3 linked regions of the Homo sapiens genome follow. The protein of the gene in region 1 purifies or fractionates together with the protein of each later gene. This does not show direct contact. Each region holds a gene or a part of one and is shown in the gene's direction. Other genes may lie near its edges.

Evidence for each region.
Region 2: the proteins of TEX14 (region 1) and SPINK5 purify together in Homo sapiens (affinity purification with mass spectrometry; one large-scale study listed by BioGRID and IntAct). This does not show direct contact.
Region 3: the proteins of TEX14 (region 1) and DSC3 purify together in Homo sapiens (affinity purification with mass spectrometry; one large-scale study listed by BioGRID and IntAct). This does not show direct contact.

Annotation. Positions count from the first base shown.
Region 1 is NC_000017.11:58,556,145-58,559,732, reverse strand, and holds the end of TEX14 (inactive serine/threonine-protein kinase TEX14), read left to right. Parts: intron 1-170; coding exon 171-280; intron 281-1,882; coding exon 1,883-1,934; intron 1,935-2,685; coding exon 2,686-2,722; 3' UTR 2,723-3,055; downstream 3,056-3,588.
Region 2 is NC_000005.10:148,062,413-148,066,817, forward strand, and holds the start of SPINK5 (serine protease inhibitor Kazal-type 5 isoform b preproprotein), read left to right. Parts: upstream 1-1,567; 5' UTR 1,568-1,632; coding exon 1,633-1,687; intron 1,688-2,934; coding exon 2,935-2,960; intron 2,961-2,994; exon of another isoform or gene 2,995-3,063; intron 3,064-4,405. UniProt on the Homo sapiens protein: Serine protease inhibitor, probably important for the anti-inflammatory and/or antimicrobial protection of mucous epithelia.
Region 3 is NC_000018.10:31,025,709-31,029,362, reverse strand, and holds part of DSC3 (desmocollin-3 isoform Dsc3a preproprotein), read left to right. Parts: intron 1-3,447; coding exon 3,448-3,603; intron 3,604-3,654. UniProt on the Homo sapiens protein: A component of desmosome cell-cell junctions which are required for positive regulation of cellular adhesion. Required for cell-cell adhesion in the epidermis, as a result required for the maintenance of the dermal cohesion and the dermal barrier function.

The DNA of each region.
Region 1 (3,588 bases):
ATTATAGCACTTAAACCAATGCCTGGTGCATAGAGAACACTCTTGTTAGTGCTAGCTATTATATGGTTTTGTTGTTGTTGTTGTTGTTGTTTGTTTTTTGTTTTGAGTACAGTCCTGTTTTCTTGGCTGTTGTGTATACGTTTTGATTCCCCAAATAATTGTTGTTACAGGGAGACAAATATCAAAGATCAAAAAGTTGGTGAAGAGAAAAGAAAAAGGGAAGATAGCATTACACCAGAAAGAAGGAAATCAGAGGGTGTTCTAGGGACTTCTGAAGAAGGTATGAATTAATGTATGTTTATAATGTAGTCTGTAGTCCTTGGGCTTTGATGTGCTTCAAAGTTATTTAGAAATGTTTCCCAGATGCTATACATAATCCTCCTACCTTTGATAATTTATTTTTCTCTGCAGTTCAGCTCAGGTTTTCTGTTAATTGCCAATCATAGCTTTATCACAAAAACAGTAATAACATCCAATTCTATTTCCAAAGCAAGCTTTTGCCCAGTCTCATCATCATTATCTTGCACGTTGTCTGGGGAGACGTTTTGCTGCTTCTTTTTTTTTTAGACAGTTTCACTCTTGTTGCCCAGGCTGGAGTGCAGTGGCACGATCTCGGCTCATCGCAACCTCTGCCTCCTGGGTTCAAGTGATTCCCCTGCCTCAGCCTCCTGAGTAGCTGAGATTACAGGTGGATGCCACCATGCCCAGCTAATTTTTGTATTTTTAGTAGAGACGGGGTTTCACCAGGTTGGCCAGGATGGTCTCGATCTCTTGACCTCAGGTGATCTGCCTGCCTCGGCCTCCCAAAGTGCTGGGATTACAGGTGTGAGCCACTGTACCCGGCCGATGTTTTGCTTCTAATTGTCCAACGTCTTCCAAAGAGTTTTAAATTTAGCTCACATAGATGCTTCAAAATCCAGTAATAAATCATATTTTATGGAATTTAAGTGGAGTCTACAAGTAATGTGAAAATTATAAATTAACCTTAATTTTAAAACTATTTTGATAGATTTTGAAGGCTTCTGATATGCCCTTTACAATGACGCTCTCCCATATTTAAGTTCTTCCTACTCAGGAAAGTAAGAGACTTTAACTCTTTCAGATCATCTGGTATTCCTTTCACCTCTTCCTGATTTCCTTCTCATTCTCCCCATCTCTGCCCTGCTTTGTGCCCCAGAATGCTGACCCTAGTGGACTGCATCTCCTGGGCTTCCTGTTTGCCAATGACAGGCCCCAGCAGAAGATTAGTGGGGCTAGAGAGAATTTGGGGTATTACTTTGCCTCACTGCTTACTTCAGCACCTTGTGCCTGGTAGAAGTGGTGTCTCTCCACAAGTGCGGCTTCTGTAGGCAGTCCATTCTTCCCAATTCCAGCTCTCATTAAGGTCTAGTAACTGACCTCTCATCTCCAACACTCAGTTCCTTCAGACTTAGGCTTCCCACTGCTGCTAATCACTGGATGCCTTGACATTCCTTGTTTGTTCCCTTAACTCTAAATAAACCTCTGTATGTAGTCACTTCACTAAGGATCTTTATTTGAACCAGCCGTGGGTACATTCTGTTTCCTCCAGAACCCTGACTGCACAGGGCCCAGAACGTGTAGGCATTTAGCTATTAATAGTATTGATTTCACTGAGAAGATAATACAGGGACTTTGTGAATTAGTGTCATTAGCGCCCATTGCTGTGGCAGAAAACTATAGAATGTTAGGAGGGGAAGCCCATTAATTGTGTTTTTAGAAAGAGTCTATCTGGCAGAATATAACAACCATTGTAGGTAAAACAGTCTACTCTAAATTAGAGGGAGCACTAATATGAATACTGGCACCCTTTGACCTAGAAATTAATCATGTTGTTTTTTCCTTCCTCTTATATTTCATCAAGATGAACTAAAATCCTGTTTTTGGAAGCGACTAGGTTGGTCCGAATCATCCAGGTAATGAAATATCAGATGTTTGTAGATCAAAAGTCATGTTTATAGACAACAGAAGCAGACTTAAAAACATTTACCAGTGTCTAAATACACATTAATGACAAAGACTCCAATTTAGACAAAGTTGCTTAATTTTTAAAATGTTAGTGTTTATAGTTAATTAAACTATAAAGTGAAATTAATGCCAACTTTGATTCAATAAGTGATAGAGTCAGCATAAGAACAGTTTTAGGCCAGGCACGGTGGCTCATACTTGTAATCCCAGCACTTTGGGAGGCCGAGGCGGGCAGATCACCTGAGGTCAGGAGTTCGAGACCAGCCTGGCCAACATGGTGAAACCCCGTCTCTACTAAAAATACAAAAATTAGCCGGGCATGGTGGCAGGCACCTGTAATCCCAGCTACTCAGGAGGCTGAGGCAGGACAATCGCTTAAACCCGGAAGGCAGAGGTTGCAGTGAGCCGAGGTCGCGCCATTGCACTCCACCTGGGGGATAAGAGCAAGACTCCGTCTCAAAAAAAAAAAAAGAACAGGTTTAATATGGAGAGAATACAGAAGATGCTGCTGTCAATTGCTCTGTAGTCATTTTGCATTTCCATGACACACTGTTGGTTATAATCGCCCTTGATTATAAAGACCAAAATTCCTTTCCCTTGAATTTAATTGAATAGAAAGAGGATGTGGTTTGTGTCTTTAAAAAACACACATACCAACTCGAAACTTCCTTTTTTGTTCTTTAAAAAACATGTGCATAGGATAATCGTGCTGGATCAGAGTGACTTGTCAGACTGATTGGAATTGGATCATAGACGGACTCCTGGCCTGAGTTTGAGTGTCCTGGTTGTAAGCTCCTTTCTTCTCTTTCTGCTTCAGTTGCTGTCAGGGCAGCAGTTCCAGTTCTGTAAGTCTCACTTTGTTCAGCTGCCACAATAGACATCATCGTTTGGCCCTCTCTGTTAGCAGCACATTCAACCATTTGTTTTCAGTCAGATTTCTGAAAAGTGAGAGGTAGTTTTGATAGTAAAAATTTTTGGTTGTGCCTAGAATGGCTTTGGTTTTGTTGATGTTAATTTTCAAAAACTTTAACTCTTGTTATATAATAAAATGTTTAATTTTAATAACAGATTTTGCTGTGTAAGATATATTTCTGAATTTGAGTTATTGGGAGTTGGGGGGAGAACTGCCACCCAAAGAGGCTTCAATTTCTGACAAATATGCAGCTACCGCTACCACCCATTATATATACTGGTACCAGTCATCTGTGTCTCATAACAGAACTACAGCCCATCCACTTGGCTGAGAGTGCCATATTCCCATTCCAGCTAGAATTGGCTCACACAATCAAAGTACAGGTAGTGGCCAGATGTGGTGGCTCACGTCTACAATCCCAGCACTTTGGGAGGCCAAGGCAGGAGGATGGCTTGAGCCCAGGAATTCGAGACTGGCCTAGGTAACAGAGGGAGTTCCCTGTCACTATAAAAAATTAAAAAATTAGCCAGACATGATGGTGCATGTCTGTAGTCCTAGCTACTTGCAAGGCTGAGGTGGGATGATCACTTGAGCCCAGGAGGTTGAGGCTGCAGTGAGCCGTGATTACACCACTGCACTCCAGCTTGGGTGCAGAGTGAGACCGTGTCTCAAAAAAAAAAAAAAGTAAG
Region 2 (4,405 bases), on another chromosome or scaffold:
GCAGTGGCGCCATCTCAACTCACACACCCTCCGCCTCCCGGGTTCAAGCAATTCCCCTGCCTCAGCCTCCAGAGTAGCTGGGACTACAGGTGCGTACCACCAAGCCCATCTAATTTTTGTATTTTAATAGAGATGGGGTTTCACCATCTTGGCCAGGATGGTCTCGATCTCCTGACCTCATGATCCGCCAGCCTTGGCCTCCCAAAGTGCTGGGATTACAGGCGTGATACACTGTGCCTGGCCCAGTGATTATATTTTTATAGGAAATAAATTATTTCATGAGAGAAAAAAGAAAGGACGTATTATCTCACTGTGATAAATCTCATAATATTGGCATACTCCCTAAGTTGGGCAACTTTGATCAGTTTTCTGGAACCATCATAAAAAGGCCTTTAATTGGATAAAGTCTCGAACTTTTCTTCTGTGGATGTGAATATCTTGAGAAGTACTGGAATGAAACAATTTGGCTCTGGTTTCAGTCATCTTCACATGTTTCTTCAGGTGCTTTCTTAAGCTATTAGGGCAAAATAAGCTGGTAGAAAAAAGGTGTTACTTGTAGGATGAAAGAAGCAACTAAAGAGAAGAAACTTTCTCTAGAAAAATGTTACATTTACACATTTATAATTGTTAACAACTTTTTTCTTCTTTTCTTTTTGGGAGACTAAATAATGGGATGATACAGGAAGAAATATGATTTAGAGAAAACTGATTGAGCCAAATTTTTCAAACGGTAATATGGGTAATCATAGGCTATGGAAAGTTAAACTGAGTCTCCAATGTTTATGATTATGATGTTTGGCTAGGATATAAAATAAGGCTTCAGAATATAAAATATCCTGCAGATTGAGAAGTTTTAAAAGTAGTTACATACAAGTTTTATTTTTCCAACGTTCCTGCCTTTTCTAATGTCTAAGGATGAAGCAGTGTACAGAGAGGAAAGAATGTTATATGTGTGGTCTGCTTGCAAGTGCTGGATGCCTCCTCTGCCTGCTCCAACTAAACTGTCTGCTTATGAGAAAGTCATTGCTCCTCTGAGTTCCTGCCTCCCTATATATTCAACATTAGAATTTTGCCAGGTTATCTTTTAGGGTCGTTCAACTCTAACATATATATGAGTCTGTGACACTGAACTCAGACACTTCAGAACAGGAACCCTGGATTTCTCTGGATGTGGAAATCTTTAAATCTATACCTGACTGGTAGGACAACCAATCTGTCTTCCTTTCCTCTCCTCTCCCACTTATGAAGGGAGTCCAGTCAGAAACATGTTTGTCTACGAGGTAGTATATCTGGTATTTCTGAGGAATTCGGTTATTATATAGGATTATAGAATATTCAACTTTGAGTAGGGTCTGTGGACTCCATCAATTGCGTTCTGGGGGAGGTACCATGAAAGAACATTCCTACTTTAGAAATAGATATTCTCTGTTCAAACCTGACACCCTGACAGGATCCTAAAGGATGGAAGCTAAAGTGGTGTGGTATATAAGTCCCATGACCTTGAACAACTGGTTTTATGTGGGTGTCACCAGTGCTTTATAAAAGTAAACTGCATCGCCCCGAGTTCAGTCATACTGCACCAGCTGAGCAATGCATGGAGTGGACCTGTAGGCGACTTGCATCGTCTTCAACATGAAGATAGCCACAGTGTCAGTGCTTCTGCCCTTGGCTCTTTGCCTCATACAAGGTGAGCAATTTGTGTGTAATCTAAGCCTCTTGCCACACATCTCAAAGCCCTGGGGAAGGGACTTTTCTCCCCCTACTCCTGCCAAAAAATGTTTACGTATGCATGTATAATCCTGAAATGTCTTGCCAGACACAGAGTTCTGAAGATTTATATATGTGGCTTTATAATTATGTTGTTATCTTTAGAAATGGCAAGTAGTTTGAGATAATCTGAATTTTCTAACCATGAGAAATTCTTCCATTAATTCTTTATTAATTCAGAAAACTGAATAGATTCTTCTTCATCTTCCTCTTGCTAAATGTATCAATTCATAATGCATATTCTTATATATGTAATAGACATTTAAAACTTAATTGTAAATAATATATGTATTTTAATGTTATAGGTATAAATGAAATATTTTTTAAAATTCAATCATCTGTTCTTATTTTAAAGCAGTGGTATCTTCTAGCTTATTTTAGTCTTGTGTTTTCAAATGCTAAATGGGTTGAAAGCATTTCTCCCAAAGAGTGAGGGACTTTTGTGGGAGCTGGAAGGTAGATTTTTATATTTGCTATTTAACCCTAAGAGAACACAAATTGCCTAGACTTACGTTGCTCTGAAACATTAAAATTTTTAAAAAGAGAAACTCATAGATAGTCTGAAATCATATACAAATAATGCCCATTTTCCTAAAATAGGTGTGTAGGTACAAAAGAGCCTATGTTAATGAGAGAGTATAATAGCCTGTGACCTTAATCTTACCTTCTGTCAGATCTCTAACTTTTGCAGCTGTAATAAGGAGGTAGAGCTGCCAGAATTCAGAAAATTAAATTTTATGTATATATCCTATAAATGTAATGCTATATTATAGTTTCAACTATAATATAGTTTCAAAATTATAATTGGTATAGTATTTTGTGTGTATGTTATATTGTAATTTTAAAAGGGAGGCTGGCATTTATTACTCCGAAAGGACCTTTTGAAGATAAGCTATTTTGATGGGGTTAGAATTCACATGAGTATTATTTTCCAAAGTAATTGTAACTTTCTGAGTGATTAGACCTTTGTGAGTATATATACTAATCTCCTGGTCCAGTGCCCTTCTTTTATTTGCCATGATAAATCTTAATGTGTTCAAAAACCATTTGCGGTTTTACAACATATTGTCATTAAAGCAATCAAGATGCTGCATTAAATGGATTATTTGTTTTGTTTATTAAATATTTTACATTTCCTTAACTTTGGTTTCTATATTTTCATCCCAGATGCTGCCAGTAAGAATGAAGATCAGGTTAGTCCTGCTTTTTCTGTTCATTGAATTCATTCCAAGATTCCCAAAGAAAAGTGGTTTGTGGCCAACACCTTCATGTTAATAATACAAACATATTATACTGGTAGGTACTAATAGCTTTTGTTAAAAACACAGAAACAGATTTTTATGAATCAGGACATGAGCCTCTCTCTCACACACACACACACACACACACACACTCAACATATTAATGATGATGGATGTCTGCAAGAGGCAATTTATCATGTTAAAGGAGCATTTTAAAATTTCATAAACAAAAAATAAATCAACTGGAAAACTACTATTGTTCCATTTAACATCTCAACAAGCCATGATACACCACATAGGAAGCTGAAATAAATTTTCTAGTAATCATTATGCAAAAGAGGGTGGTCTGTATCTTGTATATAGTCGGTGTATATAGTTCATGTAATGAATATTTATTGAGCATCTCTTAGATGTCAGACCCTGTTTGAGATGCTGGGGTTATTTTTAAGTAAACAAAATAGATGAAATTCCTGCCCTGAAAATTACGTTTTAGTGTAGGAAAACAGACAAATTAATAAGTAGCTTAGCAAAACATATGGTACGTTAAATAATGATAAATGCTAGGAGAAAAATAAATCAGGAGGCATAATAGGATCCCTGAGAATGGAGGTGGTATCCATTCTCATAAGGATAATCAGGGAAGTTCTCTCTGGACAGACAGTATTAGAATAGGAATCTGAAGGTCATAAGGGAATGAACCACGAAGGTATTTGCAGTTTACAGCAGGCCAGACAGAAGCACCTGTGAGCGCAGAGGCCCTGACGCAAGAAGGTGCTTTACCAACTCTTAAACCTCTTTTGTTTGATAAATTAAAAAATCATTTTCTACTAGAAGTTAAATTTTTTAATCTATTTGAAAGATAGGATGACCAATTACTCACACACACACATTTTATATATTTATATACACACACACTGCTATGCATGCTATTAATTCAGCACTTAAAGCACAATCTTAAATGTTTTGCTGAATATGTGGCAAAATTTGTTTTATCTCTGGCCACGAACATTAAAGGAATAAAAATGTGAAACAGCTATTCTTTACGTTGAAACTCTGAGAACCATGGTTAAAATACTCTCTTGCCGTATTTTGTTGCAATGATTTTTTTTAAAGAAACTTCTTACATGAGTGTTCTAGAGAATTTTATCATGTTCTCTACTATTTCATCTAAGTTTACTGATAGGGAGAGGTCCAGAAAGTTCAGTAGAGTAGAAAATAAGCTAGACATTTGGGAATCAGAGAGCATGCTCACTTGGAAGTTTTATACTGGGAAAAAAGAAGGATATTATATAAATATCATTGTGTATAAAACCATCATTTTCTTTTTCAGAGTCCGTGATGATGGTTGGTGATTTATGGCAGATACTGTGAATTTTACACTGCTATTTTTCATAGCA
Region 3 (3,654 bases), on another chromosome or scaffold:
TTACTAAAAACCTAATAATATGAGAAAGGCCCTAAAGCCATTGAATGATCTTTATTTGTTTATTCATTTATTTAGCAGGGAGTTACTGAGCACTTAACTATATCCTGCGGGAGGTACTGCTCTAAGTACTAAAGATATAAGTAAATTTAGTCATGGCCCTTGCTCTCATGTGGGTTATTGGCCTCGTGAAGGAGACAGAAGTAGGATAATAATTACAATTTTCAGTGATGAGTGCTATGATTCTAGTATAGAGATGTTGGGTGATTTGGTAACAAATGAGATGAACATTAAACCCTGAGGTAAGGTGGTAAAAAGCAAGAGAAGGCTTAGAGAAGGAGACATCTGAGTAGAGTCCTGAAGAATGGAAAATTTTTCTGCAGGTAAATAATTGCAGAAGAAGAGGAAAGTACAGAAGTGAGAGCTCCTTAGAGGAGCTCTGGGTGGCTTAGTCTTCCAAGGTTTGATGGAATGGAGCAGGGAGATGAGGCTGAAGAGGGAGGTAGGGGTCAAACCACTATGGACTATGTGCATTCTACTAGTAAGTTTAACTTTATCTTAATAATAAGGAGAAATTCTTAAGCAGATTACTGACATGATCAGGTTTAGTTTTCTCATTAAGGTAATAGAACATGCACAATTGAAACCATTACTGAAGTAGGGCTATGGCCTTTTGCTTGCCTTTTTCCCCTTAAATTTCTAATAGTGTGCTTGATATTTAATACTAATGGTGTAACCTGTGTACTAATTGTTTCAGTTTTTAACTATCCTTCCACAGTCATTCACATTTATTTTTTATTCTACCCTAGTGCTAGACATTTGTTTATTCTCCATGAATATTATAACTTTATTTGTTTATTCTCCATGAATATTATAACTTGAACACTGATGAAGCATATTAAGAAATGATTTCTAATTGCCAAAGCTGTACCAATCATAGCTAGTTTTAGCCTTTGCTTTGCAAAACCAGTCACCATCTTAGTCCTCATTTCCTTGACATATTTACATTTGACATAGCTCACCTTTCCCTCCTTTTTGAAGTATTTGTTCATTTGGCTCCTAGGACACCATTCGTCTAGTTTTCCACTTACTTCATTGATCACTCCTTCGTATGTTTGGCTGGATCTTCCTCATCCATCCCCCTAGCCTCCTGTCCCAGTCTCTAAACTTCGGAGAGCTCCAGGGCTCAGTCAATGAATCTTACCTCTTGTTTCTTGATATTTACTCTCTCAGTGATCTCATCAGATCTCATAACTCTAAATACTATTTTTTTCATGAATACTTAAAACTTTGTATTTCCAGCCCAAACTATCTAATTGATATTAACACTTGGAAGTTTAATAGGGTTTCAAACTAAACTTATGGAAATAAAATGCTTGTTATTTCTCTTAAAAACAGCCTCCCATCTCAATTAGCAGGGATTAGAGTTCAATCATTCTGACTCTCTGGGCATTGGAGTGTGTTTCATAAGGTTTAAGCTGCAGAAAACATAGTTCTCTCTAAGTTCTTAACAGATAAGGATTTATTACCATTTATTAAAGAGTTTTCAGAATTGTCCGTAGGGCTGAAGAAACAAATTTTAGGTTGAACTTTCAGAAACAAATCCTCAAGCTAGCTATACCACAGTATCTACAACCAAGGGACATATTGCTTTCTCCATAATAGAGAAGACATTATTCTGAGAACCAAAGTGCCACTGGCACAGTCAGGAAAACACCATAGCCATGTTCCTCCTCATGAAACTTCAGAACAGTCTCTGAACTGCACCAACCAGCATCAGAGAAAAGATTGATCTGTATCTTATTTTGTAACACAAAGTTGGCGAATATCTAGTAGTACATATGCTATTGCAGAAAAGGAAGGAAAGAAGGAAGGAAGGAAGGAAGGAAGGAAGGAAGGAAACCAATGCATCTGAACTGAGCTGTCAGAAAAAATAGCAGAAGTAGCAAAAATGAGACACCTGCCTACCTCAAAGAAAGAAAGAAACATAAACTGTGATGCCAGCAAAAATAACAGAAGCAGCAAAAATGAGACACCTGCCTACCTCACTTTTGGCATTCCAATCTTGTTCAAGCACGTCTGACCGTCCATGTTTAAATCCAGAACTCTGGTTTCAAGAGATTCTGCAAAATTTGGAGGTTTTGGTTTATTTTCGTTTGAATATTTCTATCATCTACATTATGAGAGGACACTGTAGAAGGAAAATGAAACAGATATTGAGCTTCAATTTAGCCTATATGTCTATTCTTCTCATAGTTAAACTTTTGATTTCTGTATTATTATACATTATTGGAATAGGTGCATTTTATTGAGATCCCAATTACTAGTGGCTTAAACAAGACAGAGGTTTATTCCTTTCTTGTAAAAGTGTGATCTGGTAAAAAGGTTCTAATCTGAAAAAACACCAAGGACCCAGGTTTCTTTATTTTTTAGCATGGCTGTCTCTGCAGGTTCCAGATGGCTCACCTCTGTGTCCAACAGGGAGAAGACACTCTCTCACCTTCTAGAGCACAACTGGATTTTGCACATATCATTTTTGTTCACATTCCCTTGTCCTGACCTTAGCATGTGGCTCTAACTAATTGCAAGGGTGACTGAGAAATCCTTTCTTCTGGACAACCTTGTGATCACTACAAATTCTAATACTAAGGAAGATGGGCAGAATAGATATTAAGAGATACTAGCACCCTCTGACATAGTGTCCTTGACTTCCATCTTTATACCACACATCCAACTCATCAGCAAATTCTGATGGCTGTACCTTTAAATTATATCCAGAATCTAACCACTTCTCACCACCCCTATGGCTATCATGTTAGCCTAACTAACTACAGTCTCTTCTCTGGGTTTTTGCAGTGACTTCCTCAGTGGTCTACCTGCTTTTTTCCTTACCCATCCAACCACCTCTAGTCATGCTTGACAAAACAGCAAGTATTACCTTTAAGGATATAAATCAGATGATGTTACCCTTGTCTAAATTCTCCAGTGGTTTTCCATTAGACTCCAAGGAAAAGCCAGCATCCTCGAATTCTCCAATGTGGCCCCTATTACCTCATTACCTCTTCATCTCCTACTTCTTTTTTCCATGCTTTTTCTACTCCAATCACAGTGGCTTTCTTGCTACTCCTTGAACATGCTAGGTAAAACACCAGCCTGTTCCCTTGCACTTCCTATTTTCTCTGCCAGAAAGATCCTTCCCTGTTTATCCTCATAGCTTATTCATTTAATTTTTGTCAGTTTTCTTCCTAGGGTACATTCCAATTGGGATTCCCTTCTTCCTGTGAGAATCCCTGTTTGCCTTACTCTTGCCAACAATGGTTATTATTGTTCTTTTCTACCTTTTCTTTTGAAATTATCTCTTTAAAATAAAAAGATACATCAGCTGCATTTAAAAAATATTGTAACTGAATTTAGTTTTAATTTTTTTGCATATTTTTTTTCTACTTTTAGGTTGAATCTGATGCAGCACAGAACTATACTGTCTTCTACTCAATAAGTGGACGTGGAGTTGATAAAGAACCTTTAAATTTGTTTTATATAGAAAGAGACACTGGAAATCTATTTTGCACTCGGCCTGTGGATCGTGAAGAATATGATGTTTTTGATGTAGGACTTTTATTGATATGCCTGACTTTAAATTATTAAACTATGTTTCTT